Regions from separate parts of the Homo sapiens genome. Here all the other regions are reported to be linked to region 4. The links are microRNA targets in miRTarBase. Many come from high-throughput screens and were not tested one by one. Region 4 holds a microRNA gene; each other region holds the end of a gene's coding sequence.
What was found. The annotated mature microRNA hsa-miR-6778-3p reads UGCCUCCCUGACAUUCCACAG and lies in region 4 at 1,332-1,352, opposite strand. An mRNA with a match to its seed (bases 2 to 7 or 8) in the 3' UTR can be bound and repressed. Matches are read on the target gene's strand: a 7mer-m8 pairs with bases 2 to 8, a 7mer-A1 pairs with bases 2 to 7 and ends in A, and an 8mer does both.

Region 1: miRTarBase lists MANEAL as a target of hsa-miR-6778-3p. The part of its 3' UTR that is shown has no 7-base or 8-base seed match.
Region 2: the mRNA of CNNM1 is a reported target of hsa-miR-6778-3p. Seed matches in the 3' UTR shown: 7mer-m8 at 3,009-3,015, 7mer-m8 at 2,143-2,149 and 8mer at 2,110-2,117.
Region 3: miRTarBase lists NAGK as a target of hsa-miR-6778-3p. Seed matches in the 3' UTR shown: 7mer-m8 at 1,309-1,315 and 7mer-m8 at 1,444-1,450.
Region 5: miRTarBase lists UGGT2 as a target of hsa-miR-6778-3p. The part of its 3' UTR that is shown has no 7-base or 8-base seed match.
Region 6: miRTarBase lists PPP2R3A as a target of hsa-miR-6778-3p. Seed matches in the 3' UTR shown: 7mer-m8 at 2,680-2,686 and 7mer-m8 at 2,810-2,816.
Region 7: the mRNA of ARHGAP29 is a reported target of hsa-miR-6778-3p. Seed matches in the 3' UTR shown: 7mer-m8 at 3,207-3,213.

What each region holds. Positions count from the first base shown.
Region 1 is chr1:37,799,288-37,803,457 of GRCh38, reverse strand. It overlaps MANEAL (mannosidase endo-alpha like), which reads right to left. Exons shown (of 4, transcript NM_001113482.2): 4 at 2,325-3,891. The coding sequence ends at 3,255. YRDC (yrdC N6-threonylcarbamoyltransferase domain containing) reads left to right here. Exons shown (of 5, transcript NM_024640.4): 5 at 1-513. Among named protein-coding and RNA genes, the nearest start is that of C1orf122, 6.4 kb to the left of the region's middle.
Region 2 is chr10:99,390,830-99,394,999 of GRCh38, reverse strand. It overlaps CNNM1 (cyclin and CBS domain divalent metal cation transport mediator 1), which reads right to left. Exons shown (of 11, transcript NM_020348.3): 11 at 670-3,563. The coding sequence ends at 3,484. Among named protein-coding and RNA genes, the nearest start is that of GOT1, 38 kb to the left of the region's middle.
Region 3 is chr2:71,078,232-71,082,386 of GRCh38, forward strand. NAGK (N-acetylglucosamine kinase) reads left to right here. Exons shown (of 10, transcript NM_017567.6): 10 at 87-1,577. The coding sequence ends at 277. Among named protein-coding and RNA genes, the nearest start is that of NAGK, 12 kb to the left of the region's middle.
Region 4 is chr17:18,339,483-18,343,652 of GRCh38, forward strand. It overlaps MIR6778 (microRNA 6778), which reads right to left and starts at 1,404; the gene lies at 1,332-1,404. SHMT1 (serine hydroxymethyltransferase 1) reads right to left here. Exons shown (of 12, transcript NM_004169.5): 6 at 1,250-1,331; 7 at 561-773.
Region 5 is chr13:95,798,405-95,802,574 of GRCh38, forward strand. It overlaps UGGT2 (UDP-glucose glycoprotein glucosyltransferase 2), which reads right to left. Exons shown (of 39, transcript NM_020121.4): 39 at 3,176-3,408. The coding sequence ends at 3,386. Among named protein-coding and RNA genes, the nearest start is that of DNAJC3, 120 kb to the left of the region's middle.
Region 6 is chr3:136,144,448-136,148,617 of GRCh38, forward strand. PPP2R3A (protein phosphatase 2 regulatory subunit B''alpha) reads left to right here. Exons shown (of 14, transcript NM_002718.5): 14 at 596-3,447. The coding sequence ends at 719. Among named protein-coding and RNA genes, the nearest start is that of MSL2, 50 kb to the right of the region's middle.
Region 7 is chr1:94,170,490-94,174,659 of GRCh38, reverse strand. ARHGAP29 (Rho GTPase activating protein 29) reads left to right here. Exons shown (of 23, transcript NM_004815.4): 23 at 1-4,170. The coding sequence ends at 791. Among named protein-coding and RNA genes, the nearest start is that of ABCA4, 51 kb to the right of the region's middle.

The DNA.
Region 1 (4,170 bases), not on the chromosome of region 4:
CCAGGCGGGAGAACTGCTTGAGCCCAGGAGTTCAGAATCAGCCTGGGCAACATAGCAATACTCCGTCTCATAAAAATTAATAAATAAAAAGTCTCAGGTGACCAAAGGCTCCTGAAGCTAGAACCAGGTTTGGATAAAGATTGAAGAGCCACAGGCCACTCTTCCCTCTGAGCCATTGGGCCTAGTGGTGTCATGTATTGTAATTGCTCGCAGGGAGAGCAGTCTTTTTGGTGTAATAGTGGGATGTCTGCTTAGTTGGCAGGGGTTCAGTCCAAATGGAAGAATATTGGGAAATAAACCTCCACTATCCTTTATAGCCAGGGACTTTTTTCTTATTTATTCATAAAATAAATTATAGTTAATTATACCCATAACACCTTTATTTAAATCCAGTGTTCTCCGCAGCCTTTTGTCTATTTATATGTGTACCAAGTGTTAAACATAATTATTATTGGGCATTTGAACTTTGTTTTTCTTTAAAGAAATGCTGCTATTAAACATATTTGTAAATGGTTTGTTTTTCTTCTTTTGAATTATTTCCTTAGGAGAGTAGGTCAAAGTGTAGGAAGTATTTATGGCTCTCAGTATGGATTAGCCTTCAAAAGAACTGAGTCAAGTTACACTGCTGTTAGCAGTGTGTGAGAATGGCTGCCTCTGCCCCCTGGCCTTCCCATGTTTAGTATTTTTCAGATTGTGTGTGTGTTAAATGAAGCCAGTGTTGCTACCTTCTGTAAATTACTACAGGTCAACATCCAACCCTTTCAGCTGTCCCTGCCTGCCTTGGTTTCCCCAGCTAAGCCCCAAAGCCAGGTGGCCAGGCCTGCTCATCTCTCTGGTGGGGCTTAATATCAGTTACCTAACTGGGGCTGGGTGTCCTTGAGGTGACCACTGGGGTCTATTTCCTCCTTCCTCCCCTTCCCTCTTGTACCCTAGTTCCCAAAATTCTGATTCAGTCTTTTTTTTTTTTTTTTGAGACAGAATCTCTGTTGCCCACACTGGAGTGCAGTGGCACGATCTTGGCTCGCTGCAAACTCCGCCTCCCAGGTTCAAGTGATTCTCACACATCAGCCTCCTGAGTAGCTGGGACTACAGGTGTGCACCACCACACCCTGCTAATTTTTTTGGTATTTTTAGTAGAGATGGAGTTTTGCCATGTTGGTCAGGCTGTTCTTGAACTCCTGGCCTGAAGTGATCCACCCGCCTTGGCTTCCCAAAGTGCTGGGATTACAGGCATGAGCCAAGGCACTCAGCCCATTTTTTACTTTTTTAAAGACACGTCTCTCTGTGTTGCCCAGGCTGGTCTCGAACTCCTGAACTCATCCTTCCACCTCAGCCTCCCAGAGTGCTGGGATTACAGGCATGAGCGACCACGCCTAGCTTCCAATTCAGTCTTGAGCCCATAAACTTCTCAGTACAGTGGTTTCCAATGCACCTGTTTCCAAGTATATCCTAAGAATCTTGTGTTAACAGGGGCCTGCTTTAATCAGGGTTCCTGCAATTAGCGTATTAGTTTATTGGTAAATAAGCACTGGTTTGTTAATTCCCTCTAGAAATCTTGTTTAGTAATGTTTTTTGTGTTTTCTTTTTGTTTGTTTGTTTGTTGTTTTTGTTTTGAGACAGTCTTGCTCTTGCCCAGGCTGGAGTCCAGTGGTGCCACATTGGCTCACTGCAACCTCCGCCTCCCAGGTTCAAGCGGTTCTCCTGCCTCAGCCTCAGAAGTAGCTGGGATTACAGGCACCCACGCCCAGCTAATTTTTGTATTTTTAGTAGGGATGGGGTTTCACCATGTTGGCCAGGCTGGTCTCGAACTCCTGACCTCAGGTGATCCACCTTCCTTGGCCTCCCAAAGTGCTGGGATTACAGGTGTGAGCCACCACGCCCAGCCTTGTTTAGTAACTTTTTTTTTTTTGAGACGGAGTCTCGCTCTGTCGCCCAGGCTGGAGTGCAGTGGCGTGATCTCGGCTCACTGCAAGCTCCGCCTCCCGGGTTCACGCCATTCTCCTGCCTCAGCCTCCCAAGTAGCTGGGACTACAGGCGCCCACCACTACGCCTGGCTAATTTTTTTGTATTTTTAGTAGAGACGTGGTTTCACCCTGTTAGCCAGGATGGTCTCGATCTCCTGACCTCGTGATCCGCCCATCTCGGCCTCCCAAAGTGCTGGGATTACAGGAGTGAGCCACCACGCCCAGCCATTGTTTAGTAATTTCTTAAGCAAACCTACTTGTTGTGGTAAAGCCATAGCCAGCCCAGCTCCTGTATCAGTTTGTCACAGAATCTAAGGTCAGAATCTGTGAGGTCTTAAAGAGAGCAAAAGGAATGCTTACTTGAGAATACCAGTTCATATTTAATTACTACTAATCACAGTAGCACTGAACATGGCTCTAGTGAGTGGGCCTCAGTCAGTTCAGGCAGCTAAAGGGAGGGGGATTTCCTCCTAGTCCTCTCCCTAGAGCTAAATATGCATCTGGGAAAAATTAGGCTCTGGAGCACAGAGGTATTTTTCTAGAGGAAAAAGAACTGAACTCCCAGCACTAGGTAAAACTGCAAAAAGAAAAACACCTGTGCCCAGGCACTAGCTACAAGGCCACACCAGAAAAGGAAAGCTGGGTCCTGGAAGCTTCAGGACAGGAACTCTTCCTTGGTCAAGTTTTCCCCAGCACCTAGCACATAGGAAGGTGCTTGATGAGTGAGTGTTAAATGAACCTGTGAGTGCTCAGGATGATTTCCTGATAATTGGGTTCAGGAATCTACTGGGAGGAGCTTAAACCTAGAAGTTCCCTTTTTGAAAGTCTCAAATATGGTTCCCTAACTTAGAGAAGACAGATGATGTGGGAAGGAGGCCTGAGGAGAGGATGCAGGCTGGCAGAAGGGAGCAGGGTGCATGCGAGCCCAGACCCTGACACCCTTCCAAGGGTGGTGACTGGGTGGCCACTACACAGCACCAGCCTGCTGCAGAGTTCAAAACTAGAAGGGGTTACATGAAAGTGTTCCCAGGATGTGGAGCTGCCCTGGGCTAAGTTCAGTCACCTGCCAGCCTCTGCCGTTCCCATCACCACAGAGCACCTCAGCACCACTCGCCTGAGGAACGGGCTCTGTGTTGCACAGGCCCATGCCTGACGGCCCACCCAGAAACACCCATCTGCTGACCTCTGACCTGGGAACGAGTGAGTGGCTACAACCTCAGCTGAACCCCACATGGTGACATCTTCCAGCAAGGCAAGGACATCAGCACCTCACGCCCATTTACAGGCCCCTCACATGAGCCACTGCTCCTTCTCTTTGATGAAGTGCTCCGCCCAGCGGCGTGTCAGCTCCAGGTACAGGCTGGGCTGGTGAGGCAGGTAGTCCAAATACAGGCGGGTGGGTGTCTTCTTGGGAATGGCCTTCTCAATCTGGGTGCCCTCGTGCCACTCATTGAAGGAGGTAATGGAAACGATCTCGGGCCTCACTGTCAGGGCCGCCTGCAGGGCCGTCTCATAGTACTTGCCATTGACCCTGTTGCGCGTATTGTGGTTGTTCCAGGGCCGAATGCTGGTGTCTATGTAGCCAGGCCCCACACTGGGGATGAACATGAGGTTGTTGGCATCACAAAAGTTCTTCACAGCTTTCCAGTTCTGATGGGAAGAACCAAAGGAGAAACCATTGGAGGCAAAGTAGGTGTACATGCCGTCAAATCCGGCGGCCAGGATATCGTGGGTGTGGCCCTCCTCCACCAGCAGCGCTATGAAGACCCCATCGTAGGGCGTGTTGCGGATCGAATGGGGCCCGTTTGGTGTCAGGAGGTGGGCCCAGGCCTCAGGGGACGTCAGGTATGAGTCGTAGATATAAAAGAGTGGGAGGCTCTTGCCCATGCTGTTCTTATAGCGGTAAAATGCACCATGGGAGCCATACCTGAGAAGGAGAAAGAAGAGCCTCAGCTGGATGGGAGAGACCAGCACAGCTGTAGGACCTCCCGTGGATGAGATACGGATGCAACACAGCCCAGTTCTGGAGCCAGTCAGTCTCCACAGTTGGAGTCATCATGCCTCTAAGCAAGAACCTGGTTCCCTCCTTCCTCTCTCCAGTTGTCATTCCTAAGCCTCACTTCCCTACCCTTAGCCAAGCCACCACCGTCTTCCATCTGGATTGCAACAACAGCCAGCTAACTGGTCTCCAGGCTCCCATCCTGCC
Region 2 (4,170 bases), not on the chromosome of region 4:
AGAGGTTTTGGCATAGGCCCCTGATCCTCCTGTTTGCTTTGAGAAATGAGTAGTAGGTGTCAGATTTCAGCCTTCCTTCCACACAGGTATTATATGCCCAAACACATCTTCCCACCTGCCTGGCTGTTCCCTCCCTCCAGCATCGGCTTAAAACTGACCAACAGGCCTGGCCCATTCTTGTGTTCCGTTCCCTAGCCTTTGGTTGCAAACTGCCAGAGTCATGCCACTTGGACTCCTTTCTGAAGGTTCTGCAGAAGCGAGCTAGTGTGACCAACATTCTGTCTCAGGGGCTTGTCTGGGTTTAGCCCCCAAGACCCTGAATTTGGACGGCACCCAGCACAGCACCTCACCCATCACATGGGTTCAGCAAATGCCAGCCCTTCTCACTGTCGTCTTAGTTCCTTCCTCGTCTTTATGCATACTGGCTTCTCATTTGGGTTTTACTTCTCATTTCTGGCATTCACTCCTGCAAAATCTTACCATCTGGCCTCCCAAAGTAGTGTGCCAAGGCTTCCCCGTGACCTCACCGCAGCCTCACACCTGGCCCGGAGCGGCATGCCTCTTCAGGCAGGTGGTGCACAGGTGAGATCATCACACGTGGGCATCACTCAACCTGCATCTCAAATGAAGCCACGTCAGAAGATTCCAGGGGCAAGGAAAACAGCCACATTCCAGGAAAGGCATTTTCATTTTATTTAAAAATTATTTACAATTTATTAAGCCTTCATAAATGCTTTATTTTAAAATCTTTTTTTTAAACTTTTTTTTTAACCTGAAGAAAATCTTTGTGGGGTGGGGGTATATAGGGAGGGGAGTGGTGACAGGCTCCATAGGGATTTTGCAAAGGGATGGGTGTAATGCAACAGCAGTGGCTTGAGCCTGGTGGCCTCAGGTGATGAAGACCAGCCAGGCAGGCACCCCGGGGCCAGTGGTCAGCTGGGCAAGAAGCCTGCATGATGGTAGTTCTTGTTCAAAACTCACCATTTATTGGTTTGGGTCTAAGTACCCAACATTGAGGGCTGACACTTCGCCTGTTCCTACCAGGCAAGAGCAGGTGTTGGGACTGGATGACTGTGAAGTTATCTACGAGAAGTCATGCACTGCTGAGCCTCAGGCCAGGCCAGGCAAGGGGTGTGGTGAAGTCAATAATCATTGCTGGAAAAGGCTTCTCTAGCTCCAAAGTCTTTACTTCCACACGCTGTGGCCCTCCTGTCTGCAACACCTGCTCTGGGTTGTTGGGGAAGAGGGGACAAAGTTATGTGGGGGTGTTGGTTGTACAATACTCTAGGGTGTGCCGAGAATTTCTGAGGACTTCCACTTCTTGGTGGGTGCCAGCCTTCCCCATCAATTGATGGACATTTGAAAAGACCACTTATGATTAAAAACCTGTCTCGAACTGCCCAGTATCCACTTCACTCTGCATTGCAGAAACGCTGGGCTGAAAGTTCCACTATTTAAAATAGTAGTGTTTTTTTTTGTTTGTCTGTTTGTTTTAACTCTTTGTAGGTCTGAGACCTTTGAGAACCTTATGAAAGCTTTAATGCTCTGGAAAAAACATACAAGAATAAATACATTAAATACTGACAGTTTTAGGGGTTTCATAGACCCTCTGAAGTCCAACTATGGACCCCCTGGGGTGATGGACCCCAAGTTAAGAACCCCTGAGTTAACAGTTCCTGTGGGTAAGCATTTTCTTTTGAGATGCAGATAACCCAGAGGAATGATCAGTCTCCCTCCTGCCTGTGAATGACTCAATGGGTGTGGGGAGGTGGGAGGGAGGGTTTTGGAGGAAGGGGAGGGAAGCTGGATGGTATACTACGGGGAAAGGTTTGGGAATGGTTTGGAGATTTAGCAGACAGCACTCGATCAATGAGTTCAGTGAGTACTTGACTGAGAACATCTAAAGAGTAGGAGACAGATCAGAAAGGGAGATAGTTATTCTGAAGACAAATTTCACTTACTTCCAAGTTTTCCCTAAGGCTGGCTGTGGTTGCTTTTCTTTTCTTTTCTCTTTCTTTCTTTCTTTTTTTTTTTTGCGGGGGGAGACAGAGTCTCGCTCTGTTGCCTAGGATGAAGTGCAGTGGTGTGATCTCAGCTCACTGCAACCTCTGCCTCCCAGGTTCAAGCGATTCTCCTGCCTCAGCCTCCCGAGTAGCTGGGACTACATGCCCAGGAGAGATGGGGTTTCACCATGTTGGCCAGGCTGGTCTCAAACTCCTGACTTCAAGTGATCCACCCGCCTCGGTCTTCCAAACTGTTGGGATTACAGGTGTGAGCCACCGCGCCCGGCTTTGCGGTTGCTTTTCAGAACTGTTTTATTCTTGGAAGCAGGTATGCGCGGTCACTCTGCCATCTGGTGGTTATGCTTGGAATTGCACCTGCCCCAACTTCAGGAGAAAAACCAGAGATCCAGTAAGTTCTTGGAATAAAGTACACTCAGCTGATCTGCTAGGGTGTAGTAAGGGGGTGGGAGAAGGACAAATGCATGAAAAAGAAGAATGATTCTTCAACATTCCTGTGTAACTCCCACTGAAGTCCCATGAGATTATGTATCTTTCTTGGCTGACCTGGGCACTCTTTGGTTTGTCATGGCTAAACTTGCTTTCAGCACTTACAGTTTTTCCATGTAAGTTTTGTTTGTTTTTTGCTTTGATTTGCACTTAAGACCTGAAGTTCCATCTCTGGCTCCCAGTTGGGTCTCTCTGCTCCCTGTTCCTTCTCTTCCAGAGCAGAATTATTGATCGATTGAAGACTGCTGATTGGGAGCCAAAACAGATGTGTCCCTGGTAAAAACAGTGACTTGAGGTTCCATCTCACATTCTTTCCATTCCAGCTGAGACATACTGCCCCAGGCTGCTGGAACCCTTATCTAACAGGAAACCAGTCACTAACAGTTTTCTGTGCTGTAATGTCAATCACGCGCCAACATGGCTGAGTCCCACTTCTTTAAAGCTCTGGGGGAAATTCTTGGTCCATCCCCTGAACTAATCTTCAGACCTCCTACTCCAGCCTCCCATGTGCCTGTCTGCCAATGGCACCTTCTGAGCCAAGCTATGCATGAAATGTGTTAGAAAGTTAACATTTTGTTCTGGAGGAAAGAATGGCAAGTTCCAAGACGATAGGTCTCCTATGGCATCAGGGGACCCAAAGAACAAAGAAGAGCATCAGGGGTCCCAGAGTGGCATTGTCAGCTTGCAGTCAGACATCTCTTTTCCAGTCCCAGACTATGCTGTGGAAAAGACCATTTCTAGCATGTTCTATCAGAGGCACCTCCTTCTGTTATGGCCATGTCAAGGTTCTGAGTCGAACTGGAGGTAACGAGGGAAAATCTGCCAAACTGACAGCTAGGGGTGAAGAGATGGAAGGGAAGGCAGAACATTCTGTCACCTGTGGGAGGCCTTGGGGGAAGCAGATGATGGGAGGGTGGATTCTCCCCCAAAGCTCTGGAATTTCACACACCCAGTGAATGCTGGCTTTGCCCTGTCATGTGATCAGAGGTGTTAAATTGGAGTTGTCCTCAGAGGTTCTCTCTCCTTCTGGTGACCTCTTCCTTTTTTGGCCACCTGAAAAAAACAAGTTGCAAGTATCAGCCTGTAACACTGGAGGAACATTCATAATTGCTTGGCAGTCTGAGTTCTTTTCAAAACAGAAGCAGAAATGGAGACAAAGCCCTTGACAGCTTGGTTAGAACTAACCGGCATTGTATGCTGGTGCTGATATTGGCATATTTACATCTTGAAAGATTAGGACGTACTTTCCACATAAGATGCCATCTCTGAAAAGTCACAAACCCAGGCTGGTGCCTGGAATTGAGACTTCCTGGAGGGGACTGAGTAAAGCCCATGTAACACCTCAGGCCCATGCCTCCTGCGCCCCTTGGGGGCCAGCCCCTCTGACTGCCAGACACCCTCAGAGAGGACCAATCTCATAGACTTTGATGTCCCATGAATCAGGGTTGGTGGCTGTAGCTGCAAGCCATTTCCAGGGACCTGCGTTCTCTAGCTCTGAAGCAACCTCCCTTCTGCAGTGGGGCAGGTGGGCATAATTACATAGTTGTCCTCAAGGATGAGAGAGCAATCTGTTCCCAGGTCTGTTTTTAGGAAGGAATATCTTCACCTTGTTCTCTCCACCATTGACTTCCATCTGTGGAGGAGATTGCTCTCTTTCTAT
Region 3 (4,155 bases), not on the chromosome of region 4:
CTGGGCGTCCTTGTCTGTCTTCCTTCCTGGCCCCAGTACAGGTTGCTGTTCTCCTCTTATCTCTGTCCTTGTGTTCTTCCCTCCAGGTTTTCTTCTGGCGCTGACCCAGGGCAGAGAGATCCAGGCTCAGAACTTCTTCTCCAGCTTCACCCTGATGAAGCTGAGGCACTCCTCCGCTCTGGGTGGGGCCAGCCTAGGGGCCAGGCACATCGGGCACCTCCTCCCCATGGACTATAGCGCCAATGCCATTGCCTTCTATTCCTACACCTTTTCCTAGGGGGCTGGTCCCGGCTCCACCCCCTCCAAGCTCAGTGGACACTGGGTCTGAAAGGAAGGAGTCTTTTGCTTCCTTTCTCCTTTTTACAAAAACAAACATAGAAGAAAATAAATGCACTTTATCCACTCCCCAATTGGACTGCATTATCAAACACATGTGCTATGTACATCCTCAGTGCACCTGCCAGCAGATATCCTGGAGGGCTCATGAGTGAATTTAGTCCAAGATTTAAAGCCCTGCCCCCAGGTGCTCAGCCTGTGATCTGTATCCACTCAGCATGCACTTGGGCAGATGATTTGTCTGTGTGCTACCCTTCCCCCCATATTACCATACATATGCACTGTGTGGCTGCCAGTTAATCTGTGACCTGTTTTCTCCTGTCGTGTCAAGTGGGTAACGATCCCTGGCGACCACAGTCAGCAGAAACAAGTGCTCACCATTCAGAACATCACAGGGAGTAACCTTAGGTATATCACACCCTCTCCTGAGACTCCCAGCAAGATTTAGGGGCTAGAGTACAATTCTAGACTGGGAGCATCTTTACCTCACTGGATTTAGTAACTGCAGGTAAGCAGGACATTTTGAAGTTTTTCCTATGAATGAGTTTTTGAAAGGTTATGAGGATGGCTGAGATCCAAGAAGACCAACTAGGTACCGCTCACCTCGGTAGCTGACCTATTCCTGGCTACTACTAGCCTGGCTCTGCTTACAGCGTGACACTATGTGTTGTGTGTTCCTGGGAATGAGGAGCATCAGTGAAGAGCAGACATGATTCCTGCCCTCTGGGTACCATAGTTCAGCCAGTGAAGGCAAACCTGAAGCTTCGGTTCCACAGCCTGTGCTGCTTGGTGAAGACTAAGGACAGGAGTCTCGATCCACAATAGCTGCCTCTCCAGGTGTTTTATTAGAGGCATGTGGATCATGTCCTGCACATCAGTTCTCCAACTTACAGACATCAGTTATTCTAGAGTTTGTTTTAAAACACGGTTTTGGCCGGGCACGGTGGCTCACGCCTGTAATCCCAGCACTTTGGGAGGCCGAGGCAGGTGGATCACGAGGTCAGGAGATTGAGACCATCCTGGCTAACACGGTGAAACTCCATCTCTACTAAAAAATACAAAAAATTAACCGGGCGTGGTGTCGCGCGCCTGTAGTCCCAGCTACTGGGGAGGCTGAGGCAGGAGAATGGCATGAACCCAGGAGGTGGAGCTTGCAGTGAGCCGAGGTCGCACCACTGCACTCCAGCCTGGGCGACAGAGCGAGACTCTGCCTCAAAAAATAATAAATAAAAATAAAATCAGGTTTTTGTCTACTCCCCTCCCCTGCCCTAAGGTATCTGATGATAATAGGTTAAGGATGGGATGGGGAATTTTCATTTCTATTATACTGAACAGCTTGAGTAATTTCTGCTGCAGAGGTCCAGCATCTGCACTTGAGGGAGTGCTATGCTACAGCTGGTAAGTTCTGATTAGGCCTTCTAAGACATCTTGAATACTATCTTGTTGCCCAAGTCGGATGATGCTGTTCTTTCACAGTGTAGCATTCACGTAGAACAGAATAGTAACAGCTCTCCTTCCATCAGCTCTAGCCCAGTGCTGCAAGCTGGAGCTTTGAGCAATAAGAACTCCAGCCAGGTCCCTTCTGAAAGAACAGCCAGCCATCTTCACATCCAGCTATGACCAAATCACTGTGGTCTAGCACTCAGCAAGTCTCCAGTCCAGCACCTGGTAAAAAGCTTGCAGAGAGAACAAGGACACAGCAGAGGCATCTTTGCTATATCCCACAGTCTTGAAAAACTGTTAGGTTATTAATGAGTGGTGAGCTTTGGAGATTTTTTTAAATAATGCTCTCAGGATGAGGATCAAACAGCATTTTGGTGAAAAGAGTTTATAACTACTGAGACCTACTTATGTTCTTCAGAATATGGCCATCACTTTTCCTTAGAATTGTCTAGACTGCAATTCCAATTGGACAGTGGAGGTTTTAGTGGAGGAGCACATCTTGATTTTTTTAGTCCCAGCATAGAAATGTTGAAAAAAATGCTGAAAAAAGGTAGTATTAAAGTGCATAAGGTCAGATGTGTTCCTAGTTCCTGTCACATTTAGGAGATGTGATGAGGTCACTTCCCAGTTATTAAAGCTCTATTAGGCTGCAGTGCAGAAAATCGCAAGTGATTTTTTAAAATTTATTTTAGAGGTGAGGTCTTATTCTTGCCTAGGCTAGAGTGCTGTGGCACTATCATAGCTCACTGCAGCATTGAATTCCTGAGCTCAAGTGATCCACCTCAGCCTTCCAAGTAGCTGGGAGTACAGACATGTACCACCACACCTGGCTAATTCTGTCATTTTTTTGTAGAGATGGGTCTTGCTATGTTGCCCAGGTTGGTCTCAAACTCCTGGCTTCAAGCAATCCTGCTGTCTTGGGCTCCCAAAGTGCTGGAATTATAGGTGTGAGCCACCATGCCCAGCCCAAAAGTGATTTTTGCTGAGTTTCTCCCCTTTTATTATTTTATTTTATTTTATTTTATTTATTTTATTTTATTTTATTTTATTTTATTTTATTTTATTTTATTTTATTTTATTTTATTTTATTTTATTTTATTTTATTTTTGAGACAGAGTCTCACTCTGTTGCCCAGGCTGGAGTGCAGTGGTGTGATAACGGCTCACTGCGACCTCTGCCTCCCAGGTTCAAGTGATTCTCCTGCCTCAGTCTCCCAAGTAGCTGGGATTACAGGCATGCAACACCACGCCCTGCTAATTTTTTTGTATTTTTTAGTAGAGTTGGGGTTTTGCCATGTTGGCCAGGCTGGTCTCAAACTCCTGACCTCAGGTGATCTGCCCGTCTTGGCCTCCCAAAGTGCTGGGATTACAAGCGTGAACCACTGTGCCCGGCCTTCTCCCCCTTTAATTTTAAACTTATAGTGTCCCCCAACAAACTATCAGAAGAAATTCATGGGATTTTGTATCACCAAGGCATTAAGAGATGTATACAGTCCTCTCATCTGAGCCTGTAACAGCCCTGTGATGAGACAAGAGAGCTTGGAACAAGCATTGGAATGAGGCTAGCACTGCCTTATCTCCCTGTGTGATCACAGGGATAGTACAGCTTCATCTGTCCCTTTCATTCAGCAAACATTTATTGAATGTCTTGCAGGTGTGATGAGTACTCTAAGCATTAAAAGTAAGTACACCAAGGCCAGGCGTGGTGGCTCATGCCTGTAATCCCAACACTTTGGAAGGCTGAGGCAGGCAGATCACGAGGTCAAGAGATCGAGACCATCCTGGCCCACATGGTGAAACTCCATCTCTACTAAAAATACAAAAATTAGCTGGGCGTGGTGGGGCGCACCTGTAGTCCCAGCTACTCGGCAGGCTGAGGCAGGAGAATCACTTGAACCCAAGAGGCGGAGGTTGCAGTGAGCCGAGATCACGCCACTGCACTCCAACCGGGTGACAAAGCAAGACTCCGTCTCAAAAAAATAAATAAGTACACCAGGCCGGGCACAGTGGCTCAAGCCTGTAATCCCAGCACTTTTGGGAGGGTGAGGTGGGTGGATTGCTTGAGTTCAGGAGTTCAAGACCAGCCTGACCAACATGGTGAAACCCTGTCTCTACTAAAAGTAGAAAAATTAGGTGGGCATGCTAGCAGGTGAGGCATGAGAATGGCTTGAATCCAGGAGGCAGAGGTTGCAGTGAGCCAAGATTACACCATTGCACTCCAGCCTGGGTGACAGAGTGAGACTCCATCTCAAAAAAAAAAAAAAGAATATATCATCCACCTCTTCAGGGAAGTTACATTCTAATAAACCCTATTTACACAAAACTACATGTAACTATAGGATTTTAAAATGCTGTAAATAGGCAAGTCAGCTCAGGA
Region 4 (4,170 bases):
TATGTTCCTAGGACCTGGATGCACAAAAGTGAAGCAGGAGCTGTGGCTGACAGTCTCCTTCTGGGGATTCCTTTCTTTCTTTCTTTTTTTTTTTTTGAGACGGCATCTCGCTCTGTCGCCCAGGCTGGAGTACAGTGGCACAATCTCAGCTCACTGCAAGCTCCACCTCCCAGGCTCACGCCATTCTCCTGCCTTCGCCTCCTGAGTAGCTGGGACTACAGGTGCCCACCACCACACTCGGCTAATTTTTCGTGTTTTTAGTAGAGACGGGGTTTCACCGTGTTAGCCAGGATGGTCTTGATCTCCTGACCTCGTGATCTGCCCGCTTCGGCCTCCCAAAGTGCTGGGATTACAGGCGCGAGCCACCTCACCTGGCCGGGAATCCTTTCTGTAAAGCCTGTCACTGCTCCTTCCTAAGCAGCTCTTTAAGGGACTGGGATCTTAATATTTTCCAAGGATCCCAGGTCAGAGTTTTTCCCAGCTCCCTCAACTGAATCTGAACCCCCACAGGAGAAATGTAAACCATGGTACCCATCTGTACCCAACATTCGGGAGCTCACCTTTCCTGTAGAAGATCATGCCAGCTCGGCAGCCTCGCAGGGTCTTGTGAGTGGTGGTGGTCACCACATGGCAGTGTTCAAATGGGGAGGGCACCACGCCAGCCGCCACCAGCCCGCTGATGTGAGCCATGTCCGCCATGAGATACGCCCCGTTCTCATCTGCAATCTTCCGTAGCCGGGCATATTCCAGGTTTCGGGAGTAGCAGCTGGTTCCTGAGACAGGAAAGGTGACACAGCTGCATCAGAGATGTCCACCGGCCAGCTGAGTTGGCTTCACAGTGGCCTCTAGATGTGCAGATCTGAAAGCCCAGAGATTTCTTCCCTTAAAGTCTCAGAGCAAAAATGGAGAATGCCCTCAAAAAGCACCTCTGTGCTAAAGGCAACCACTCTAACTCTTCAACGTCTTGGTGGTTGAGATGGCCCCAACTACTATTGCCAGCGCAGTCAGGGCCTGACATTTCTAGATGCTTCTCTGAGAACAGTCTCACATCTTAATCTACATAGCACAAAAAGCAGCAAACACACATCTGTATCCTGAAAGAAACTAATATATGTAGACCCCAGAAACTCAGTTATCCAGGGCAGAAACTAGCAGTGGGCTCAACAGGGTGCGAACATCTTTCCATCCTCATTCTGTAAGAGGCACCAGGCTACTGGTGAACAAGGTGACTTTCCGCCCCGCGCATCACCTGCGATGATCAGCTTCGGGTGGAAGAGGCGTGCGTTCTCCTCCAGCTGGTCATAGTTGATGTAGCCAGTATCTGGGTTCACCTGTGGAATGTCAGGGAGGCAGGTTCAGGCTGCTTCCTCCAACCACACCTGCCTCCTGTCCTCCCACTTGAACTGGCTCCACCCACCATGACAAGAGGAATGATGTCCTAGATGAGGACTTGAGGGTGAGACAGGATGGATACTGGTGTGTTCAGCCTGCTCAACCAAGTATGGCTCACAGACCCAGGAGTCCCTGAGGAGTCCCAGGGTTGTAGTGAGCCCTGCTGCTGGGGCACTACCTGCTGAGAAGGAACCAAAAAGCACCTGCAGAATGAAACAAATGTGACGGGACCACACAATGGAAACCAAAATGGTTACCTTCAGGAACAAGACCAAAATGCCTGCTAATACTACTTCTATTCCAAGTATAATGAGGCAAGAAAAAGAAACAAAAGGCATAACGATTAGGAAAGAAGAAATTTAAAAACTGACATTACACACAGACAACACAATATACCTAGAAAATCAAGATGCTAGGGGCCAACTGTTAGAATAAGCAAATTTAGCAAGGTCACTGGATACAACATTGAAAAACAAGAAGTAGGGGCTGGGCGCGGTGGCTCACACCTGTAATCCCAGCACTTTGGGAGGCTGAGACGGGCAGATCATGAGGTCAGGAGATCGAGACCATCCTGGCTAACACGGTGAAACCCCGTCTCTACTAAAAATGCAAAAAATTAGCCAGATATGGTGGCGGGCGCCTGTAATCCCAGCTACTTGGGAGGCTGAGGCAGGAGAATGGCGTGAACCCGGGAGGTGGAGCTTGCAGTGAGCCGAGATTGTGCCACTGCACTCCAGCACTCCAGCCTGGGCAACAGAGCGAGACTCCATCTGAAAAAAAAAAAAAAAAAAAGCCAAAAAGTATATAAAAGCAAGAAAGATAGAAAATGAAATGTAAATAACAAAAACCATAAAAGGAAAATCATACCAAACCTTTACACAAAACATCATTGCGTTGTGTATTTTGTGTCACAAAATGCTTGACAAATTATAGTAATTAAGGCAGCACGCATTCATGGAAGGGCAGAGCATCTGGCTTAACCAGAAGCAGAACCACACACAACACAGGTCATTGGATCCATGCCAGTGGTGACGCTGCAGTGCAGTGGGGAGAGGATGACCTTTTCAATCAATGGCACTAGGTCAACTGGGCATCCATTTGGACAAAAATGTTATCTGGATGCCCGCCTCACCCACACAAATCAATTCCATATTCAGCAATCCCACTTGTGAATCTATATCTTAAGAACTTGAAATCAGTATGTCAAAGAGACATGTGCACTCCCATGTTCACTGCAGCACTATTCACAATAGCCAAGTTATGGAATAAAGCCATGTCCATCAACAGATGAATGGACAAAGGAAATGTGACACATATATATATAAACAATGTAATAATAATCAGTCTGAAAAAAGAAATTCTGTCATTTGCAACAACACCGATGAACTTGGAGGACCTTATGCTAAGTGAAATACGCCAGGCTCAGACAGACAAATACTGCATGATCTCACTTCTTTTTTGAGACAGAGTCTCACTCTGTCACCCAGGCTGGAGTGCGGTGGTGCCATCTCGGCTCATTGCAACCTCTACCTCCCAGGCTCAAGCGATTCTCCCACTCAGCCTGCTGAATAGCTGGGACCACAGGCAGTGCCACCACACCCGGCTAATTCTTATATTTTTGTAGAGATGGGGTTTCACCATGTTGCCCAGGCTGGTCTCGAACTCCTGGACTCAAGTGAGCCTCCTACCTCGACCTCCCAAAGTGCTGAGATTATAGGTGTGAGCCACCGCACCTGGCCATGTGATCTTACTTCTATGTGAAATCTAAAACAATCGAACTGCTGGGCGTGGTGGCTTATGCCTGCAGTTCCAGCACTTTGGGAGGCCGAGGCAGGTGGACCACCTGAGGACAGGAGTTTGAGACCAGCCTGGCCAACATGGTGAAACCCCGTCTCTACTAAACATTCACAAATTAGCCAGGCGTGGTGGCGTATGCCTGTAATCCCAGCTATTCGGGAGGCTGAGGCAGGAGAATCACTTGAACCCAGGAGGCGGAGGTTGCAGTGAGTCAAGATGGTGCCACTGCACTCCAGCCTGGGCGACAAAGTGAGACTCTGTCTCAAAAAAAAAAAATTAAAATTGAATAAATAAATAAATAAATAAAACAATCAAACTCACAGAAGCAGGGTAGAATGTGGTTACCAGTCACTGGAGGGTGGCAGACAATGGAGAGATACTGAGCAAAGGGTACAAAGTTGCAGTTAGACAGGAAGAAAAATAATAAATATTTAAGGAGTGGGATATGTTAGTTAACTTGATTCAATAGTTCCACACTGTATATACAAATCATAACATCACTGTGCATCCCATAATTATATATAATTTGTTTAAAAAAAAAAGTCAATTCCAAACAGATTGTAGATCTCGATGTAAAATTTAAAATAATTTTTCTTTTCTGGCAACACATCTCTTAGGAAGTTCATTTTATTAAACTTCTATAAACATATGGGTCAGCCAGGCGTGGTGGCTCACATCTGTAATCTCAGCACTTTGGGAGGCCGAGGGGGTCAGATCACCTGAGGTCAGGAGTTTGAGACCAGCCTAGCCAACATGGTGAAACCCCACCTCTACTAAAAACACAAAATTAGCCAGGCATGGTGGTACACACCTGCAGTCCTAGCGATTCAGGAAGCTGAGGGAGGAGAATCGCTTAAACCCGGGAGGCAGAGGTTGCAGTAAGCTGAGATCGTGCCACTGCACTCCAGCCTGGGCGACAAGAGGGAAACTTTGTCTCAAAAAAAAAAAAAAAAAAAAAAAGGGGTCAGCCGGATGCGGTGG
Region 5 (4,170 bases), not on the chromosome of region 4:
TTCTCAGAAAATAGAAGTTTGTATTTGGTAAATGGGGTTAACAAATAGAAAATGGGGAACAGCTGTCACATTACGATAACACTTGAAGACTTTAAAAAAGAGAGGTTCTAGAATGGGCTTACACACCTGACCGAGCCCCTCTAACTTACAAAGTTACCTGTAATTTTGGCCATCAAAGCCCTGGACCATCATGTTTCCTCTTCCTCACTCTGCCACCAAAGGTGAGATTTTAACCAATCAACTGGTTCTTTAGAAGTGAGTGGAGCCCCTTCAGTCTATGAAGTAACAGAAGTGAGTGAGACAATGGCTGGGTCATAACTTCTGCTTGTTGGTTTGAGCATGGGCCCATCAGCACCTTTTACTTCATCTCTGTAACTATGGATCTGAGACACATGATCCACGTGTTCATCTGACTTGTCCCGTACCTCCTGCCCATGAAAGTATTCTGTTGGGTCCCTGGAGCCTCTTCTGGGCAGTGGCAATTTGTTGTCTGGTTGCTTTTCAGGTGCTGGAGTCAGGACCTGGCACACAGCAACAAGCAGTTCTGTGGGCAGGTCCCACTTGTGTCAGACTACATGTTTAATATTAAAAGCCTGATTTTATAACCCCAGGCTGACATGGCTTTAGGTGCCTTTAGAAGTATTTGATGCTATCCTTCTAGGAGCTATGTTGTTCTCTAGGAGCTTGAGGGTAACTGGAGCCAAATGACAGGCATTTCCCAAATACAATCTTTTGGACCTAAGTGTTGGAGGTGGTATGCTGACTTTGGATTGTCTTAATGCTCAGATTCTGGGTCTACTTTCTACATAAAGCTCACACATCACTGTGGGTCAAACACAAATGCTTCTCATTCTTAGTTTAGATACACTGTTCTGACACTTTTTCTAAGAAGGCAGAAAGAGAAGACATTTATCACTTCCCATAGTTAGAAACTAGTTCCCCCACATTCCGCTGACCTCCACTACTTCTAGGATTTGATTTTTGTTAAAACTTGACATAGGGCCTGCAGCCGAGAACCAGAATTTAGGATCCTGAATATACCATGAAAGCCGTTGGACTATATTTGTTCAGCATCTCCAGGACAAGGAACTGAATGGCTTTCTCTCCAAGTGTTAGCAAATAAGACCTATGGTTCAGTTATGTAATGTGTCCCTGAGGAGGGTACATTTTTGTATGGCACAGCAGTTTGTATGCATGAGAGCTCTTGACATAACAGCATTTTTAAAACAAGCCATTTAATTAAAACATCTCACTGTAAAGAAATACCTTATTTATAAATCTGGATTTTCTGGTATAAGGTGTCACTCACCTGGAAATGTAACATGTAAACTGGCCACTCAGATCACAAGATGCAAACAGGGAGGGGGGCCATCAAGACTGTGTTTACATTGTTCTGTAATTTTAGCTTAATACTCCATGAAAATATGGGACCTAGAATACTGGAGAAGGCCATTGTAGGTAATAAAAGTAGGAATCCGGTGTCTCTGCCCAGCTGATCATCCTTTCTATAAGATTCTCACAGAAGTGAAGACAGGCTGGTAACAAAGGAAAACAAAGTACCATCTTATAGTTGAGGTTTGTGCCCCAGCCACCGCAGCAGACCTCTGGGTAGCTGGGTGGAGCATCTGGCCTGACCTAGAACCTTACAGAGTCTCACCTCTTACCAATCCCCAGCTTCAGCTGACTCCCAAGAGTGAGCCGGAGAGCACCATGACGCTGGCCGCCCCAGGACCATTTACTGCTCCAGCCTCTGAGTGTACCCTATAGGATACTCTGAACTCACAGGAATAACCTAGTTCCACCAGAGCAGGCCATAAATGGTGCACTCCATTTTAATACAGACAAACACGAACAAGTAACAAAGGGAGGATGACTGCAAGAGGGAGAGGCAGGCGCTCTCTTATTAGGAATGAATGGAGCTGATGGGAGGAGTAGTATTTTAACTCTATGGGCTGTTCTGTCAAACACAGAAGGATTAGCCTTGTTCTGAAAAGCTCACAGGAGTGAGCTTCGGCTCATGATGGAACTGTGTGTACAGAGCTGTCCAAAGATGGACCAGCCTGTCTCTAGAGGTGGAGAGTTCCCTGTTGTCCTGGAATTTCCAAGATGGCCTGAGGCTCAGCTTTACAGGCAGGGCCTTAGAAGAGGGGCCGGCACACTGGCTGGGGCCCAATTCTATTAAATGCTTCTCAAACTTGTCTAATTACAGAACCATCTGGAGAGCTTTTTAAACAATCATGATTTACCAAGCTTACTTTAGACCTAATGAATCAGACTCTCCACAGGATGAGGTCCAAATGGCACTGAGTTCTCTTCCAGTCCCATGATCCTATGATTTTAGAATAGTTGGATAGTTTTTAAACATTTACTATTATTCATCTATTATTAATACACATCAGAAAAACAAACTGGTTACATCCTCAACTTAGTTCCCATAAAAGTACCTAGTCCTTTTAAAAAGAGAATACACATATATCCCACATGCCCATAAATGCTTTTTATGACATAAAATTAGAAACATTAAAAAATCCAAATACCGCATAAGATTAAAACATTGTTTAAGATAAATGATTACTATGCAACAATATTACTTCCATTTTAAAACAATAGTTAAGGAATAAATGGGCTTAATTATTAATTATTGTTGTCTCAGAAGGAAAAATACAAAATAGGTTTCTGTAATTTTAAATGCATTTCTGTAATATTATTATTGTTATTATTTTTTGAGACAGTCTTACTCTGTCGCCCAGGCTTGAGTGCAATGGGCGCAATATCGGCTCACTGAAACCCCTGCCTCCCGGGTTCAAACAATTCTCCTGCCTCAGGCTCCCAAGTAGCTGGGATTACAGGCGCCCACCGTCACGCCCAGCTAATTTTTTGTATTTTTCGTAGAGACGGGGTTCTGCCATGTTGGCCAGGGTGGTCTCAAACTCCTGAACTCAGCTGATCCACCTGTCTTGGCCTCCTAAAGTGCTGGGATTACAGGTGTAGCCACTGCACCCAGCCTAAATGCATTTCTGTAATTTTAAATGCATTTTGTGAATAAGGAAATGTGGATGCACATAAAACCAGATACAAAAGGCTATAGTTTGATAAACACCAGCTAGTCCGGTACCTGGGCTATCTGGCAAAATGTCAAACTTTAACTGGTGATCAGGAAAAAGGAACAATCAGGTTTTAAATACTCAATGGTCATTTATTATATAACTTAAACTCATTCAATACATTAAATAACTGTTTTAAATAATTACAATTTTTTAAAATTAAAGAATATGTCACTGATCTTAACGAGACTTCCAAATCGTCTCAGCAGGGGCTCCAGACTTCCCCAGCAGGCGGCAGGTTTCCTGTCATGCTTTCGCCTTCCTTCTCATATACACCAGTGCTAGAGTTCATCATGTGTCAAAACTATAAGGGAGAAAAGTTTATTTAGCTTCTGGCATCTTAAACATAAAAATATCTTAAATATTACTTACATATGATGAGGAAGCACCGGTACTGACTGAGGATCCTTTATTTGCTAGTTCAGTACCTATATGCTTCATTACGCAACACGAGAATAGCTCTTTGTACACTGTGATGTCTATTATATTGTCTCATAACTACTGGTCTTTCTACCCACCTAGAATGTGAGCTCCCATGAGTCTATGAGGACAAGGAACATACCTTACTTATCTTTGTTATCTTTAGGATCTAGCATCCTGCCTGGCAGATAAGAGGTCTTGAAGAATACTAACAGATTATTCACTGTGAATACAGTATTCTACCCTTAATGTAATGGAACAACAGAAAGCAGAGGACATATTAATATATAGTCGTCATCTAAGATGGGAGGACACAGCACTCTGACATAGACATAAGTACTACATAAATGCAAGCACAATTCTGATGAGACTCTCAGAGAACAAAATGGTCTCTTCTGCATCACTGAGCTGTCACATACCAACTGATGTAAATCACTGAGAACTCAATATTTTCAGGCAGAAATTAAATAAAATACAATTTAAATGCATGCTGTTCCACAATTCAAGATGGCAGACTATATTTCTTCACTAAATTCTACTGGAAAGATAATAAATATAAAAAGGAAAAACAATAATGAGAACGAGGGAAGTGGTTACAAGACACTTGTTGGGGCAAAGTTACCAATGAATTTCAAGAAATGGGAAA
Region 6 (4,170 bases), not on the chromosome of region 4:
GTCAGGAGTTCCAGACCAGCCTGGCCAACATGGTGAAACCCCATCTCTACTAAAAATACAAAACTTAGCCAGGTGTGGTGGCGCATGCATGTAGTCCCAGCTACTGAGGAGGCTGAGGCAGGAGAATCGCCTGAACCTGGGAGGCAGAGGTTGCAGTGAGCCAAGATCGTGCCACTTCACTCCAGACTGGGTGACAGAGCAAGGCTCCGTCTCAAAAAAAAAAAAGGTTTGCCACTCTGAGTGGAAACCACTTTTAATAAGGTCAAGTAATGCTCATACTTCATGGACCTCAAATTTTTCTTTACCTAGCACCATCTGTAATTCTCTCACTCCCACCAACCACCCTAGGGAAAGCTTGATACGGAACATTTTCAACAAATTCTGACATGGACTTAAGCTTTAAGGAACAGGGAGAAGAATGTGTTTTCTGCTCTAGAGTGTTGCCTCCTTCACGGCAGTTGAGTTGCTCACGGCCTCCATTTAGCAATTCAAGGTACCTTTGTGGGCTGGTCTTGAGGCTCGGATTTGCCATATTGATTTCTACCCAAACTTTAATCAATCAATCAGTTAATTCACTTTTGCTTTGTTATTTCAGCTTTGAAGATTATGAAACAGATGAACCTGCCTCTCCCTCTGAATTTGGAAACAAAAGCAATAAAATATTAAGTGCAAGCCTTCCAGAGAAATGTGGAAAGCTTCAATCAGTGGATGAAGAATAGCTGCCGGTGTCTACAATGAAACGAAGATGTGTATTTTAAATGTTTCTTTCTTGTGAAGAGATGTTCTCGTTTGCATACTGCTTTTTAAAGACTTTGATTTCTCCAAGTGTGTATCATCTGCACTAGGAACTTTGTTTTTAAGCAATAGGTCTGGATACACATTTAACTTAGGAGGCTCCTCCAATTTGCCTCAAACCTCTTACGGAGCTTCTCCTCAGAAGTGGTACCATCGCCTTCCAAAGTCAGCACTCTACACTCTTGAATGTACCAAGGATCTCTTGGCGACAGTACCAAGCACGGTTCTCTACACAGGTGACTGAAGTTGCCTCTGTGTTGGCTGGCATCCCTGAGTCCCCTCCGGGCTCCTATGGAGCCTAGAAGAAACCTTCACTTGCAGAAAACTTGAGTCAGAAAATTCTGGAACTTGAAAAAGTAGTAAGGGCCTCCAGAATTGACTTAGCCCTAGTAATAAAAGCACTGCCAAAACATCTCAGAGACTTCTTTTATGTATACTGGAGTTCAAAGATCTTTAACTTACCTGGCTTAATGTAATTTCACAGTTACCTGCCAAACTACTAGTCACTTTACATCCTCAGGTATTGTAACCACTGGGCCTTCCAACTTTGCTGGCAAGCTCTGGTAACCTCCCTGACTGTGGATCTTATATAAAATCTCAAGATAAAAAAACACTTCTTAAATGAAGTATAGAATTTGACTCATACTTGGAAAAAGCCCTTTTAACTTTTATCTTTTATTCATTGAACTATTGAATGATGTATTTAATATCCAAATTAGTTGATAACTGTTTTCACTTCCTATCAGAAGGCCTGCTTGAAGACATAAAGGAATAATGATACATTAAAATTCTTACTAGATAGATATATTCCTTCCTCCCAGGAGTATTAGACTAGCTAATAGTAAAGGCCTCAACGTTATTCTTTACTTCATGTTGAAAACAATTACTACAGATATTTCATCCACCTCAGTATTTATCAAGGAAATGGAAAATGATACAGCTATAAAAGAAAGCTGTTATTTACTGTAGTTGTAGATGTATTCACTACAGAATCCTACATTTTTCAGCAGGCCACAGTCCAGCCAAATCCTATAATATCCTTGAAAAGAAACTATTAAAAAGGATAGACATTTCTGATGTAAGTAAAACCCCCAAGCAACTTAATATCCATCTGTCAGTCATCAACTTTTCCCCTAGATTTTTTTTTTAACTAGTTCTGAAAGTGTCAAGAATAGCTTCCCTTTCCACCCTACCTAGGTTCCCTCCTTGCTGGCATAAAGGCCAAGCAGTGAAATGAACCTTGGGTTAGAGTTATGGTAGGCAAAAAGAAAAGGAGAATTTAGGAAATAAATATGCTATAAACAAGGTACAGTACAGTGAGAGTTAACAATCCTAGGAATCCTGCCTGTCACAAGCTCCCAGTTCCCTGTCATTTTATCTTCATGATTAGAACTGATCTTCCATTTAACTATTACAGAAAGCAGTAACTATTGCAACTATCTAATAGTTCACACAAAAGAATTAAAAGCTTAAAAATAATTTTTAGGAAACACAATATTCAAAATCTAAACACACTGATAAATTATTAAGATTAAGATTATTTATGTGATAAATGAAATCTCCTACCAATCCATCCAGCCTTTACCAGGGAAGAAAAGCAATTATTTCATTTCAGATAGAAATACAAAAAAAAAAAAAATACTTTTCTTAGAAGCCAGATATGGTTTAAATGTTTTATTATCCATAATGATCTAAACTAATAAGATTCACCAAAAAGTAAAAATTCAATTTTACAATATACATTTTTTTTTTTAACTATTTGGCTTTACCTTTTTACCTTGGTTCTCCTTACTGAAGTCCTCTTGCTTTCACTTTGATCTGGTTTTTGAAGTCTCTTAATTATTGGCTGGGCATGGTGACTCATGCCTGTAATCCCGGCACTTTGGGAGGCCAAGGGAGGTGATCACTTGAGCCCAGGAGTAAAGACCAGCCTGGGCAACATAGTGAGACTCCGTCTCTACAAAAAATAAATTTAGCTGGGCATGGTGGTGCACATCTGTAGTCCTACCAACTTGGGAGGCTGAGGCAGGAGAATCGCTTGAGCCCCAGGCTTCGAGGCTGCAGTGAGCTATGATTACGACACTGCACTCCAGCCTAGGCGACAGAGCAAGACCCCATTCTCTTACAAAGTCTCTATTATAAAAGTACATCCATCAATACCATTCCATTTAAAATGGGCTATTGTAATTTACCCACATTATCACATTTTCAGGAATTATAAGAATGTGTTTTATTGTACTCCTTCCTTGGAGCTGAATGCAAGGAATGTGAATTCTGAGGAATTAAGGTAGAATATATTTGACTTTCTGGTAAAGATCATGGTTAAGTATAATCATTACTGCCAAACTGGAATTTTCAAGTTATTATAATATCCCAGGCCCCTTGATAAAAGCTGAGGGTTATCATGACCTTAATGCTAATTCAATGAGAAATGAGTTTAATAGCATAACATTACCAAGGTAATCAAACTAATAAAATTCCATATATCTTCCCTGCATCTTGTCACTGTGTACCATTCAAAGTGTTTATAAAACTCTAGATTCATCAAATGAGATTTGCTCAGCTTTTTGAAATGTTAAGATGTGTTTGGAGAAGGCTGCATGACTTTGTTTTTCCCTTTTAGCAAAACTAAATAAAGTTGTCAAATATGAATCATGTTCATTAAGGTAATTACTACACACTTGTGCTTTTAATCATATTTGCACCTCATTTTTTTGTCTGCAAGAGTAACACTGTAAACAAGCTTGAATGTCAGAGAATAACTCTTTGAGCCCATGTGAAAACTACAAAGAAAGGTCTTTGTAGTAATGACAATATACTGAGAAATGATTTCTTCAGGGGATAGGGAAGAGGACCAGGGTTTGTGAATGAGGCGGAGTTCACAGGAATCAAGGTAGACTTTAGCCTCATCTATAATGCATTATTTTAAAAGAATGTGTAACGGCATGTTTTGGGGTACCTAAATTTTATTTCAGAGGCAAGGTCTATGTTGCCCAGGCTGAGTTCGAACTCCTGAGCTTAAGTGATCCTCCCACCTCAGCCTCCTAAGTAGCTGAGATTACAGGCACACACCACTGTGCCTAGCTTTTAATTTTTTTAAAAAGAGAAAAGTATAAAATACCATACTTTGAACTTAGTATTTTCTAAAGCATTTCTGTTTTTTATCTATGATATGGTTATGGACAATTTATTTTTCATCTGATTCCCATAAAACTTTTACTCTTCTTCAACAAGGTCACCAATAAATTGTTTTAACTAAGAATACAATGAAATAAAAGGAATTCTTTATCCCTAGGACCATACTACACCTCCTCCCGGAAATGCAGACTTAATAAGGCTAACCAAAAAGATAAAATTGTCAGCTCTAAAACTATT
Region 7 (4,170 bases), not on the chromosome of region 4:
CTGATAGGTCAACAAACAATGTGGAGAGGCATACTCCAAGGACCAAGATTAGACCTGTAAGTTTGCCTGTAGATAGACTACTTCTTGCAAGTCCTCCTAATGAGAGAAATGGCAGAAATATGGGAAATGTAAATTTAGACAAGTTTTGCAAGAATCCTGCCTTTGAAGGAGTTAATAGAAAAGACGCTGCTACTACTGTTTGTTCCAAATTTAATGGCTTTGACCAGCAAACTCTACAGAAAATTCAGGACAAACAGTATGAACAAAACAGCCTAACTGCCAAGACTACAATGATCATGCCCAGTGCACTCCAGGAAAAAGGAGTGACAACAAGCCTCCAGATTAGTGGGGACCATTCTATCAATGCCACTCAACCCAGTAAGCCATATGCAGAGCCAGTCAGGTCAGTGAGAGAGGCATCTGAGAGACGGTCTTCAGATTCCTACCCTCTCGCTCCTGTCAGAGCACCCAGAACACTGCAGCCTCAACATTGGACAACATTTTATAAACCACATGCTCCCATCATCAGTATCAGGGGGAATGAGGAGAAGCCAGCTTCACCCTCAGCAGCAGTGCCTCCTGGCACAGATCACGATCCCCACGGTCTCGTGGTGAAGTCAATGCCAGACCCAGACAAAGCATCAGCTTGTCCTGGGCAAGCAACTGGTCAACCTAAAGAAGACTCTGAGGAGCTTGGCTTGCCTGATGTGAATCCAATGTGTCAGAGACCAAGGCTAAAACGAATGCAACAGTTTGAAGACCTCGAAGGTGAAATTCCACAATTTGTGTAGGGATGTCAAATTTCAGGGTTTTTTTGTTGTTGTTGTGTTATTTTGTGGTATTGTGCTTGTTTTGTGAAAGAATGTTTTGACAGGGCCTCTTTTGTATAGGACTGCCAAATCATGGGTTTTGCCTTTTGTTGTTGTATTTATCCTCTGTTGGTAATACTGAATGGTAGAATGTTTTGATAGGGTCACATTTGTGCCTCACTGGAATTATCTTTAAATTCTGTATTTTTAAAGTTGTGAATAAGATAGGTGGATTCGTATTTTTTAAAGTTCAGTTGACTTTCCCCACCAAATGGTCCATTTGAATGCATCCCTAATATATGATATAGTCTCAACTAATAGGTGCAATTTGGGAAAATCAGGTTTATTTTTTGGAGTGGAACTGTTATAAGTGCTTATTTATAAAAGGAATGTTTCTGAATGCAAGTGCCTAAAAAGATCTTTGTTGGTATGCATATGTTTTGTCACACAATTTTATAGTGCATCTTTCACCATTTGTGCTTTTTTAAGATACGTATGTAAGCTCTTATTTTTCAATTGGCAATTCAGTTAATTTTTAAATGTTTACATAATGGCCAGAAGGCTTGCAAATCTGTATTTAATTGCATTTTAATTAATTGCCAGTTTTTACATGTGATAGTCAGTTGTACAAAGAAAATGCACTTAAACCTGTTTCTAAATTATATATTCAGTTATATTATATTTGGCTTTAGATGGTTTTAATACATTTGATAGTTTTTCACCCCTTGGCTTTATTTTATATAAACTTTTGTTTTTCAGCAGTTCTGAACTTTTTAGTATTTTATAAATGGTCCAAAAAATGCCTGTTTCAGAAGTTTTTGAATTCAGTGCATTTCCTCTTGATTTGTCTGGGTTAAAACCATTCCTTTTGTATGAAATGTTTTGACTTAGGAATCATTTTATGTACTTGTTCTACCTGGATTGTCAACAACTGAAAGTACATATTTCATCCAAATCAAGCTAAAATTTATTTAAGTTGATTCTGAGAGTACAGGTCAGTAAGCCTCATTATTTGGAATTTGAGAGAAGGTATAGGTGATCGGATCTGTTTCATTTATAAAAGGTCCAGTTTTTAGGACTAGTACATTCCTGTTATTTTCTGGGTTTTATCATTTTGCCTAAAATAGGATATAAAAGGGACAAAAAATAAGTAGACTGTTTTTATGTGTGAATTATATTTCTACTAAATGTTTTTGTATGACTGTGTTATACTTGATAATATATATATATATATATATCAACTTGTTAAATTATTTCATGTTCCCGTGGCTTCTTTTCAGTTGTTGCCTATTACAGTATGAGAGTTTAAGGTTATTAACCATTGGCTTAGAAGTCAACACCTAGGATCATACATCCGTTGACTACAATGTGGAATGAATTTTATGGAAACCTGTTTTATAGTTCTATGTGATGTAAAGGTCTAGGGAGCAATAACCAGCCCTTTTTTTTCTGAAGGCTTGTTTTTAGTCCTCATTGTACAAAATATAAAATAATCATATTGCTATGAATACCTAAAAAGAAAATTAGAGCCCATGTGTATTGAGCCTTCTCTGTGTGCCAGGAACTTTGCCAAGGTGCTACATAGATTATTTTATTTCAAGTTCACAGCAACCTATAATGGGTGGGTAAGCATGTTATTATTTCTGTGTTACAGATAAGGAAACTAAGGCTTAGTTAAATGACTTGCTTCAGTGTTCCACAGGTGTAACAGGTGGAGTCAAATCTCAAACATAGGGCTGTCAGATTTTGATGGTTAGTGCTCTTAATGACTGTGATTACTAAATAATATCTGGTAGTTTTTAACAATAGAAAATGCAACTTTAAAAAATTTTTATTGTGGTAAAATACACATAACATTTACCATTTTTAAGTATATTGTTTGAACCATTTTTAAGCATATAGTTCAGTGGCATTAAGTATATTCACATTGTTTTGCAACCATGAGCACCTATTCATCTCCAGAACATTATCATCATCCTATACTAAAACTTAGAAAATGTACTTTTAAACTTCTTCAGTTCTCTTTTAATATATGGAGCCCACCCAAAGGTTATATCATGTAATAAACTCATTTCTCTGTTTTCCCTCACAGCTTAAAAATGAGAATTTCACTTTTGGGTCCTTTCTGCCTTTAGGGCTCCCTGGCACTTTGTCCAGCGTAGAGCCTTAAGCCTCTAGATGCTTTCTAGTTTCCTGGGGCCCTGAGGCAAGTATCTCTTGAGAAGAGGTTGCTATTTCTAGAGGATCCACAGTGTGCACTGTGTTGTGCTATCTAATAGTGTGGTGGAAATCATTTATCCAGAAGTTGTTTTTTGCAACATGGAAAGATACGTGACCAAAAGGAAAGGGCAACAGCAGGAGCCCTGTTAGTGCTGCCAGAACACCAGGAAGCCTTGTGGGAGGCGTATTGTCCAAGATGATGCGTATTGTCCAAACGACTCAGAAGAAGTCATTTCTGAAGGGTTGATCATAACTTCCCTAGCCATGTTTTACCTACAGAGAACTTAGTTAGAATTTATGAGTACAGTATGTTAAATTACTTTTAGTGTACCTTAGGCAGTGTATTTGTTTTGATACAGAGACAAAGACTATATGATCCCTGAGACTTGTTGCCTAGTGAACTCACAAGCAGATAGAATTGTACCTCAGTTATTTGGGTGATTTAAAGATGGTACTATGGCTACACTATTCCCAGCTATCGTTGTGTTACAGTATTTATACAACTGGAAACATCTCTCTAAATGACAACCATTGTATATTGTTAAATAACTTATAGTCAGTGGAATTCTGTGGGTTTTTCTTTCCTACAGGCAGGAAATTATGGTGATGTGTTGATATGATTATATATGTAGACTATTCAGTTAACATCTAGGAGTTAGCAAATTTGCTACATTCACAATCAGTATGTAAGTCAGTTGTATTCCTAGATATCAGCAACTAACAGAAATGGAAGTTTTTAGAAAGATCTCTTCAATATCATTAAAAAATACAAAATACTCTACCTAAGAATAAGTCTAACAAAAGATGTACAAGATCTTGATGGAGAAAATGTTAGACCATGTCAGGAAGCATTTAAGGAGATCTTAAATAAATGTAGTACTCCATAATGTACACGAATTAGAAGACTCAGTCGTGTAAAGATGTTCATTTACATTTGTAGATTCAATGTAATCCCAACCAAAATATTTTTTGCATTATTACCTCTATCTACTGTGTGTTTCCTTAAGACAAGGGCATTCCTACGTAACCATAGTACAACCATCAAACTTAGGAGATTGACATTGACATCATGATATCTAATCCATAGACCACATTCAATCTGCTGATTTTGATTGCCTCAGTAATGTTCCTGTGTTTCAGC